2 separate regions of the Homo sapiens genome follow, and region 2 is linked to region 1. The links come from fine-mapping of genetic effects on gene expression. Tissue or cell type: whole blood. Region 1 holds a variant in brackets; the other region holds the start of a gene. All regions are shown on one strand. Distances are between the middles of the regions.

Region 1 (5,151 bases):
AAAGTGCTGGGATTACAGGCATGAGTCACTGCGCCTGGTCTAGGGCTTAGTCTTTTAGAGCAGAAGGGAAATGAGGACTTCAGGTTGCTAAAGGCCATGCTGTGGCCTGCTAGGCCTGGCTGAGGATCAGTTGGGCAGCAGTGGAGTCATGAGTGTTTGTTAGGAGGAGAAAGATGAAACTGATGCTGGAAAAGATGGGCATTTCTGGGGAAGGGTTGATGATAAGCTGCTGCACTACTTAGCTCTCATTTTCTCCACAGTGGCTGTAAACCTAGCTGAAGACACAGCTCATCCCAAACTCGTCTTCTCCCAGGAAGGGAGATACGTGAAAAATACAGCATCAGCCAGTTCTTGGCCAGTGTTTTCTTCAGCATGGAACTACTTTGCTGGATGGAGGAATCCTCAGAAGACTGCTTTTGTAGAGAGATTTCAGCACTTACCCTGTGTTCTGGGAAAAAACGTTTTCACCTCAGGGAAACATTACTGGGAAGTTGAGAGTAGAGATAGTCTGGAGGTTGCTGTTGGGGTGTGTCGGGAGGACGTCATGGGAATTACTGATCGTTCAAAAATGTCCCCAGATGTGGGCATCTGGGCGATTTATTGGAGTGCTGCTGGCTATTGGCCCTTGATAGGCTTCCCTGGAACTCCCACCCAGCAAGAGCCAGCTCTCCACCGAGTGGGGGTTTACCTGGATCGTGGGACTGGGAATGTCTCCTTCTACAGCGCTGTGGACGGAGTGCACCTGCACACCTTTTCTTGTTCTTCTGTCTCACGCCTCCGGCCATTTTTTTGGTTGAGTCCATTAGCATCTTTAGTCATTCCACCAGTGACTGATAGGAAATGAGGCTTTTCTTCCCCTGACCAAAACTCCTTCCCTGTAGTCCAGCTGAGGGACACACATCCCTGGGCCCTCTTCTGCCCTTCATGTCTCTATCCTGGATGGTCCATCTTCTGGGTCTCCCTAACGGTACCGTTTGGTATCTGCCCTTTGTGTGCTTCACAAGAGGCAGTCCCATGGGAGGTGGGTCTGGCCAATGGAGATGGGACAGGAAATTTTCCAAGACGCTTTTGGGAAATCTTTTTGTAGCTTTTAAAGAGATGTGCGGGGAAGACATATGGATGTTAGCAGCCATATTGGAACTGAGAACACAGGAATGGTGGAAAGGTAGAAGAAACAGAGTTTTTGTTGCCGTTGTGAAATTGTTGAAATTTCCTTCATGCCAAGCTTCTTGTTATATGAGATAATTACGCCCTTATTGTATAAGACAATTTTAGTTGTATTTGGTTACTTGCAGCCTGAAGTACCGTAACTGCACTAAAGGGACGTAGTGTGAACATCCCGCAGTATAGGCTTAAGTCACTTTTGTGAAATTTGACAAAGGCATAGAATCTTTTTCTATCCAGTCAGGCATTGCCTATTCTTTCCAGTAACTACTGATTCCCCCACTTTTCTGTCTTAGAAAATTGTGGGAATCCCCCCTCACTCTGCCTATGTTGCACTCTCTCTCTTCCCAACCATAACTCTGCCCTCAGCTATTAACTGTGCTGTGTATTTATCAAGTTGGTATGTTGTATGTACAGTGTTATTCATGTCATCATGAGAATGTTGAACGCTTGTTAAATATCTTTTGCTAGCCTCTTCATATGCTGTTGCATATGACTCTCATCACAACTCAGTGAGATGGAAAGTCAAATCCTATTTGTACAAATGAGAAAACTGAACTCTTTAGAGTAACTAGCTCAGTATTGGCCAGCTGGTAAATGGCAGTGTTGGGATTAAAATCCAGTTCTTATCTACTCTCCCTTTATTCAGAAGCATTTATTGGATGTTGATCTTTGTTTCAGGTTTTGATTTTGTTACTTTTTTATACTGTGTATATTTTCCTCAGTCTACCCTTCTGCTCTAGATTGTCTGGACTCAGGAGATTGTGGCAGTTACTGGATAGTTATTTTTAAGATAATGATTGCTTTTCTCTGTTTATATAAGTCATGTGTACTTATTGTAGAAAGTTTGTAAGATGCAAAAAGTATAAAAATTAAAGTTATGCACTACTAACATTTCAATATATTTTCTCCCAGATTTTCA[G/A]TAAAGACTTTCAGGCAGTGATTTAACGAGGATTTTATTTTAACTTATATTTTAGTTTAAGGGGAACACGTGCAGGTTTGTTCTATAGATCAATTACATGTCACAGGGGTTTGGTGTACATATTATTTCATTACCCAGGTAATAAGCATAGTACCCAATAGATACTTTTTTGATACCCCACCCTCCTCCACCCTCTACCCTCAAGTAGTCCCTGGTGTCTGTTGTTCCCTTTTTTGTGTCCATGGGTACTCAATGTTTAGCTCTCCCTTATACGTGAGAACATGTGATGTTTGGTTTTCTGTTCATGTGTTGGTTTGCTTAGGGTAATGGCCTCCAGCTCCATCCATGTTGCTGCAAAGACATGATCTCATTCTTTTTTTATGGCTGCATAGTATTCCATGGTGTATATGTACTATGTTTTCTTTATCCAGTCTACTGTTGATGGGCATTTAGGTTGATTCCATGTCTTTGCTATTGTGAATAGTGCTGCAATGAATATATACATGCATATGTCTCTATGGTTGAATGATGTCTTTGGGTATTGGGCATATACCGAATAATGGGATTGCTGGGTTGAATGGTGGTAGTGAGGATTCTTACACAACTTACAGCATCTTCCCTAACTCCTCCTCCCCTCCTCCCCTTCTTATACATCAGCCATCTTGGCTTGTCTTCCTATTCAGCCTGAGCAGCCCCCTCATTCAACAGTTTCTACTGAGTTCTCAACTTCCCAGGATATTTGCTGTTATAGGTTGAATTATGTTCCCCAAAAACATATGTTGAAGAGCTACCTGTGAAAATGACCTTATTTGGAAATAGGATATTTGCAGATGTAAACAAGATAAGGTCATTTGGGTGGGCTCTAACCCAATATGACTGGTGTCCTTATAAAAAGAAGGAAACTTATGCATATGTTCACACACTCATGCCCACACACACACAGAAAAATGCCAGATGGAAACAACGTGAAAGAGGCTCTGGAAGATGGAGGCAGAGATTGGATTGGAGTTATGCTGTCACAAGCCAAGGAACCTGGGGCTACCAGAAGCTGGGGGAAGCCAGGAAGAATCTTCCCCTAGAAGCTTTGAAGGGAGCATGGCCCCATCAACACTTTGGTTTCTGATTTCTAACTGCCAAAACTGAGGTTAGACAGTAAATTTCCATTGTTTTAAGCCACCCAGTTTGTTATGGCCACCTTAGGAAATGATGACTACACTTGCCCTTCAGGACGTCCTTCAGTGCCTGTCTTACTAATAGCTAATCCTTTGGAAACTCATCAGTACCTTCCCTCCTCTCTTCCTTCTGGCTATTGAAAGGTTGATTGATTCTGCTATAAATCCTTGCTCTCTGCCTTCAAGTGGGCCCTTTGAGCTGCATGGTAAACTTTTTTTATCACTTGACTTGTTTTAACGTCTTTGGTGGCAATGATTCCAAACTTTTCCTTTTAAGCCTTCATGAGTCCCCCTTCATACGATTGCAAAGAACTTGCATCTTCAACAGAGAAAAAATTCTTTTCCCCTACCCTTCTTATTCTTCACAATTCTTTGTCTCTGTGCTTGAGTCTTGATATTGACCCCTCTGGTCTCATCAGGTATGGGATGGGACCTAGGTGTTCATTTTTGTTTAAAAAGCCAACCAAGTCCCTCTCCCTCTCCCTGTCCCTCTCCCTCTCCCTCTCCCCACGGTCTCCCTCTCCCCACGTTCTCCCTCTCCCTCTCTTTCCACGGTCTCCCTCTGATGCCGAGCCGAAGCTGGACTGTACTGCTGCCATCTCGGCTCACTGCAACCTCCCTGCCTGATTCTCCTGCCTCAGCCTGCCGAGTGCCTGCGATTGCAGGCGCGCGCCGCCACGCCTGATTGGTTTTCGTATTTTTTTGGTGGAGACGGGGTTTCGCTGTGTTGGCCGGGCTGGTCTCCAGCTCCTAACCGCGAGTGATCTGCCAGCCTTGGCCTCCGGAGGTGCCAGGATTGCAGACGGGTCTGGTTCACTCAGTGCTCAATGGTGCCCAGGCTGGAGTGCAGTGGCGTGATCTCGGCTCGCTACAACCTCCACCTCCCAGCTGCCTGCCTTGGCCTCCCAAAGTGCCCAGAGTGCAGCCTCTGCCCGGCCGCCACCCTGTCTAGGAAGTGAGGAGCGTCTCTGCCTGGCCGCCCATCGTCTGGGATGTGAGGAGCCCCTCTGCCTGGCTGCCCAGTCTGGAAAGTGAGGAGCGCCTCTTCCCGGCCACCATCCCATCTAGGAAGCGAGGAGCGTCTCTGTCCAGCCGCCCATCGTCTGAGATGTGGGGAGCGCCTTTGCCCCGCCACCCCGTCTGGGATGTGAGGAGCGCCTCTGCCCAGCCACGACCCCGTCTGGGAGGTGAGGAGCGTCTCTGCCCGGCCGCCCCATCTGAGAAGGGAGGAGACCCTCCGCCCAGCAGCCGCCCCGTCTGAGAAGTGAGGAGCCCCTCCGCCCGGCAGCCACCCCGTCTGGGAAGTGAGGAGCTTCTCCGCCCGGCAGCCGACCCGTCCGGGAGGGAGGTGGGGGGGTCAGCCCCCCGCCCAGCCAGCCGCCCCGTCCGGGAGGGAGGTAGGGGGGTCAGCCCCCCGCCCGGCCAGCCGCCCCGTCCGGGAGGGAGGTGGGGGGGTCAGCCCCCCGCCCGGCCAGCCGCCTCGTCCGGGAGGTGAGGGGCGCCTCTGCCCGGCCGCCCCTACTGGGAAGTGAGGAGCCCCTCTGCCCGGCCAGCCGCCCCATCCGGGAGGGAGGTGGGGGGTCAGCCCCCTGCCCAGCCAGTCGCCCCGTCCGGGAGGGAGGTGGGGGGGTCAGCCCCCCGCCCGGCCAGCCGCCTTGTCCGGGAGGTGAGGGGCGCCTCTGCCCGGCCGCCCCTACTGGGAAGTGAGGAGCCCCTCTGCCCGGCCAGCCACCCCGTCCGGGAGGGAGGTGGGGGGGTCAGCCCCCCGCCCGGCCAGCCGCCCGGTCCGGGAGGGAGGTGGGGGGTTCAGCCCCCCACCCGGCCAGCCGCCCTGTCCGGGAGGTGAGGGGCGCCTCTGCCCGGCCGCCCCTACTGGGAAGTGAGGAGCCCCTC
Region 2 (5,151 bases), 29 kb before region 1:
CACAACAGACTTCAAATTTCTCTAGAGATAGCTTATGTGTAGGGTGTGGACTTTATTTTGAAAGTGTGTTTTAAAGAGGTCTGTATGGATGTCAACTCGATGCAGAGTGGACAGTGGTAATTTTGTAATATATCAACTTTGCTAAGCTAAACTATGTTTCCCAGAATTTCCTTTCCTTTTGTTTCTGGTTAGAATAGCCCAACAGAGACATGGTTGTGTAAGTCTTGAAGGGGAGAACTGAAGCATCCCTCCAGTTTTATACTTGAAACGGTGGTGCAGGGACACTAGGTGCTACTGCGGCTCATCTACTTTGTCACCAATCAGCTGGTTCACCTTGTTGGGATGGGGCAGAAGCTTTTCCCTGAGTCTTCCTTCACCTTTTTTGATTCCTGAGCTGTGTGTGTGTCTAGTCCTGTGGCAAAAAGTGTCAGCTCCTCTAGCAAGGATACTCATATCTTTAAAGTTGGAGACAGTGAAAGAATGACCAGCTCGTGTCTTAGGTTCCAACTCATTTTTGCTCTTCCCTACTTTATGTTCATCTTCCCTTCTTAACTGCTTGCCCTGCGAACATAAAGAAACATAGTGATTCCACTTCTCTGAATGAACCTTGGCTGGTATACAGACTTATAGACATTTTGTGATGGAGAAAAATTGTTAATTAGGGAGCCTCACTTAGTAAAGAAGGAAGGTCATCTCTGGTATGGCAGGAATAAAGACATAAGGATTTTAAGGGATTTACCTGAAAAGATTTAAATGACTACTGTAAGGGGAATAAATACTTTGCAGGAATGCTGAAACTTCTCATTCAATACTTAGGTAAACATATAGACACACAGATGCCATAAACACTCATGGTAAACATCAGTAACTGTTAAGAGCATTCCTTCCTGCTTGGTCCCTATTAAAGAACCAGATCCCTTCTCCATAGAGTATTCCAATTTGCAAAGAAAATCCATTCATTAGTTGTCCAATTTAAATGTTTTAGAAATATTCAGTGGAACTTTCATCAATAACCCCCAAACAGATACCTCAAGAACCCCTTTTTCTAATCATTTAATCATACTACTTACTGAGAAAAATTATTATAGGAAAGGCAGTATTTGATATTGGGACATAAAAAGAATGAAAAATCTGTTAAATAAGCAAAAGCCCATTAGCCTGAGGCTGTCTTGGTACTTGAGTTCCCATATAACAAAATACAACCTGACTTAGTATGTAAACGAACTGAAGCCTAACTTACTTTATTTTTTATAACAGCTGGGTTTCAGCCAATCACGGCCGAGCTTCAGCAAATAACAGACAGCCAACTGATCAGACCATGCCCCAATAAGGCAAATGCCTCATCATATCATTGTCAAATAAGGCAGACACCTAGATGTTAGCTAATGAGGTGATTTCTCTACTTTGCTTCCTATAAAAGCTAGCAGGTCATACTGCTGGACAGAGCTCTCTGAACCTCTTTTGGTTCTGAGTGCTGCCCAATTCATGAACTGTTCTTTGTGCAAATAGCTTCTATTAAATTTGTCAGTCCAGAGTTTTTTTTGTTTTAAACAAATATTCACAAGAAAAGGAAGAAAGTGGGAAGAATAAAAAGCAAAGCACCTCAGAAACACAAGATCGAAAATCCACTTAAGGGATATAGATAATTCCCTGAAACAGGTGAGCATATTATTTGTTGAAAGCCTCCATGGATGTTCTTTGGGATAGCAAAATGGTTGCTACTTTTCAAATTGGATACCAAAAAGGCAATGTATCTGCATCTCAGAATCCAAATCATCCCCACGTTAGCCAAACTCCAGGCCTACCAACACAGATCCTTCAAGTCTTCCTGGCCTTCCAGGCCCCTAGGCTGCAGCTCGCCCAGAACTCCTGGGACTCTAAAACTTAAATCGGTCTAACCAGCAGGCGAACACAGACCTGAACCCTCAAACTTGGAAAGAAAGATCATAGGCACCTCCCCGGTTGGCTCCCCCAGGGACCACAACGTCCGGCTCTAACGCCTTGCCCAAGTCCTCTGTAGCTTTCCACAGGCATTTCTGGGTCTCTATAGCTGTTTGGAGGAGCCACTCACCGGTCCCGTCCTGCCCCGCGCCTAGGCCTGAACCAACCCCCTCGCGGTTCCGGCGCGGATACCCAGCAGCTTCCGGTCTTGCGCGCTCAGGCCGGGCAACGTCCGTGCGTTCTTTTTGGGTCCTGAACCCCGGAAGAGAAACTGCGTTGTACCCTTTTACGTGAGGCGGTGACGGCGGTTCGGAAGTCGTCTGGCCTCCCCGCGGCCGCTCGCAGCTTGCTGGCCTCTCCCGCGCCTCACGTCGGACTCCGTCTCCGCGGCAGGGAAGCAGCATGGAAGCTGAGGACATCCAGGAGGAGTTGACCTGCCCCATCTGCCTGGACTATTTCCAGGACCCGGTGTCCATCGAGTGCGGCCACAACTTCTGCCGCGGCTGCCTGCACCGCAACTGGGCGCCGGGCGGCGGCCCGTTCCCCTGCCCCGAATGTCGGCACCCATCGGCGCCCGCCGCGCTGCGACCCAACTGGGCCCTGGCCAGGCTGACTGAGAAGACGCAGCGCCGGCGCCTGGGCCCCGTGCCCCCGGGCCTGTGCGGCCGCCACTGGGAGCCGCTGCGGCTCTTCTGCGAGGACGACCAGCGGCCAGTGTGCCTGGTGTGCAGGGAGTCCCAGGAGCACCAGACTCACGCCATGGCACCCATCGACGAGGCCTTCGAGAGCTACCGGGTGAGCTGGCCGTCGCGGTGACTATGACGGGGCTGTCAGTGTTGCCCGATAAAGTTTACTTAATGCTCCTAAAAGAGCCACGAAGTGGCTGTCATTCCTACTGGAAGCATGAAAAGCCCCTGAAACTCAAAGAAGTTAAGCAAAACACGAATTTCAGAGCTAGGGTTAAAACTGGAATGAGAGGAGGGGAGGTGCAAACCTCAGCAATCATTGTGCAGAATTTTCAATAAACTGGCCCTTGGGGAGCTCATAATAAAGAAAAACATACTGAGAGGGTGTGTGCCGCTGCTGTCCAATAGAAACCACATATGTAATTTAAAATCTTTCTGGTAAGATAAGGAAACGAGGTGACGTTAATTGTAATAATATATTTTATTTAATCTGATTACCCCAAATATTCAAAGCTGAGATGAAAATTATCAATGAGATTTTTTTTTTTTTTCTGAGATGGAGTCTCACTTTATTGCCCAGGCTGGAGCACAGTGGCGTGATCTTGGCTCACTGCAACCTCCTCCTCCGGGGTTCAAGCAGTTCTCCTGCCTCAGCCTCCCGAGTAGCTGGGATTACAGGCACACGCCACCACACCCGGTTAATTTTTGTTTTTTAGTATAGAGGGGTTTCACCATCTTGGCCAGGCTGGTCTCGAACTGCTGACCTCAAGTGATCTGCCCCGCTTGGCCTCCCATAGTGCTGGGATTAAGGTGTGAGTCACCACGCCCGGCCTCAATGAGATATTTTATACTCCTTTTTCATAATAGGTCTGAAATTGGTGTGTATTTTACATTTACAACACATAGCAGTTTGGAATATCCACGTTTCAGGTGCTTGTATGGCTAAATGGATACTGTATTGGACAGTGCCTGTCTGTATCTGTAAATGTCATAGACAGCTGATGATTTGGGAAAAGCCTAGCTTGTAATGATGAGGCTGGGTTTTGTTACTAGCTTCCTTCATCAGTTGGGAAAATCCTGTAACATTTGAATTTGGGGATTATCTGTCCTATCTCATGGGTTAAGAAGCTCCGGTTGAATAAATCACTTTACCTTACTCTGCTTCAGCCATACTGGCTTTCTTGCTTTTGTTTCAAGTCTGTTCTCTTTCTCTACCCACATCTATCCTTTAGATCCTTTTAGCTTTTAGCTTGAAGACCTTCCCTGATCATCCTTTCCAGAGTAGCCCCACCCCCTCCCATTACTGATGGTGTAACTCCAGTGGTCTCCAGCAGAATTGATATGCAGTAAGTACATGAACACATGAATTTATTTATTTATTTTATTATTATTGTTTTTGAGATGGAGTTTCGCTCTTGTTGCCCAGGCTGGAATGCAGTGGTGAGATCTCAACTCACTGCAACCTCCACCTCCCGGGTTCAAGTGATTCTCCTGCCTCAGCTTACCGAGTAGCTGGGATTACAGGCACCTGCCAGCATGCCCAGCTAATTTTGTATTTTTAGTGAAGACAGGGTTTCACTATGTTGGTCAGGCTGGTCTCGAACTCCTGACCTCAGGTGATCCACCCACCTTGGCCTCCCAAAGTGCTGGGATTACAGGCGTGAGCAAGCTTTCCTGGCCAAACACATGAATTTAATGACACAGTGAAAATGTTTGGAAACTGTAAAATACTGTACAGTTGTACCAGCTGACTATGAACAGGAAACAGACACAAAGCTGGACTAGAAAGTGTATGTTCATTCCTTCACTCAGTAACGTTTATTGATGCTTACTATTTGCCAAACATTGTTTTAGAATCTGGACATAAGTGGATGAGAAAGACATGGGCTTTGTCTTGTAAGGAACTTAAGCGTGTACAACATTAATTTCAGTGTGTGTGAGAGTAGCTGAAGTATTTACCAAGTGTACAGAAGGTCTGAGGTCGGAGTGATCACTGAGGAGTGAGGAAAGGCTCCGTTGAGGAGTTAAATGTGTTAGCTCTTCAAGGGTGAGTAGAGGTAGGAAAGAAGGTATTTCAGGCCAAAGGAACAGCATATTCCAAATGTGGTGGAGTGGGATAGCATGTGGTGTGTGAGAGGACTGGAGGTTGCTCAGTACTTCTGGAGCATGGAGCATGGGAAGGAGGATGGTGGGCCATGAGCTTGAAGAAAAAGGCAGGGCCTTATCATGAAGGATCTTGTTTGCCATAGTAAAAAGATTGAACTTTCTCTTTCAGGCAGTGGGGAGTTATAAAAGGGTTTTAAGGCAGGGAATGATATGATCGTTTTTTTTGTTTTAGACAGGTAACTTTGACATCCACGTGGATGAATGGAAGAGAAGACTAATTAGGCTGCTCTTGTACCATTTTAAGCAGGAGGTAATAAAGACCTGAATTAGTTCAGGGCAGGGATGATGGAGAGGGAGGGATGGAGTGATAATGAGCTGGAGTTGAATGACTTGGTGATCAATTAGACTTGGTGGGTGA

The links. PIP is the estimated chance that this variant, and not a neighbour inherited with it, causes the effect.
Region 2: it holds the start of TRIM4, and the variant in region 1 is fine-mapped to the expression of TRIM4 in whole blood (TOPMed, PIP above 0.99).

What each region holds. Positions count from the first base shown.
Region 1 is chr7:99,887,856-99,893,006 of GRCh38, reverse strand. It overlaps TRIM4 (tripartite motif containing 4), which reads left to right. Exons shown (of 6, transcript NM_033091.3): 6 at 261-2,604. The coding sequence ends at 844. Among named protein-coding and RNA genes, the nearest start is that of OR2AE1, 13 kb to the right of the region's middle. RefSeq lists an enhancer at 4,970-5,151. The variant G/A (reference allele first, on the strand shown) is at 2,087.
Region 2 is chr7:99,916,594-99,921,744 of GRCh38, reverse strand. TRIM4 (tripartite motif containing 4) reads left to right here and starts at 2,215. Exons shown (of 6, transcript NM_033091.3): 1 at 2,215-2,736. The coding sequence starts at 2,344. It overlaps LOC101927610 (a long non-coding RNA gene), which reads right to left and starts at 2,142. Exons shown (of 2, transcript XR_001745296.3): 1 at 1,918-2,142; 2 at 1-561. RefSeq lists enhancers at 1,844-1,953, 2,194-2,273, 2,304-2,353 and a silencer at 2,484-2,643.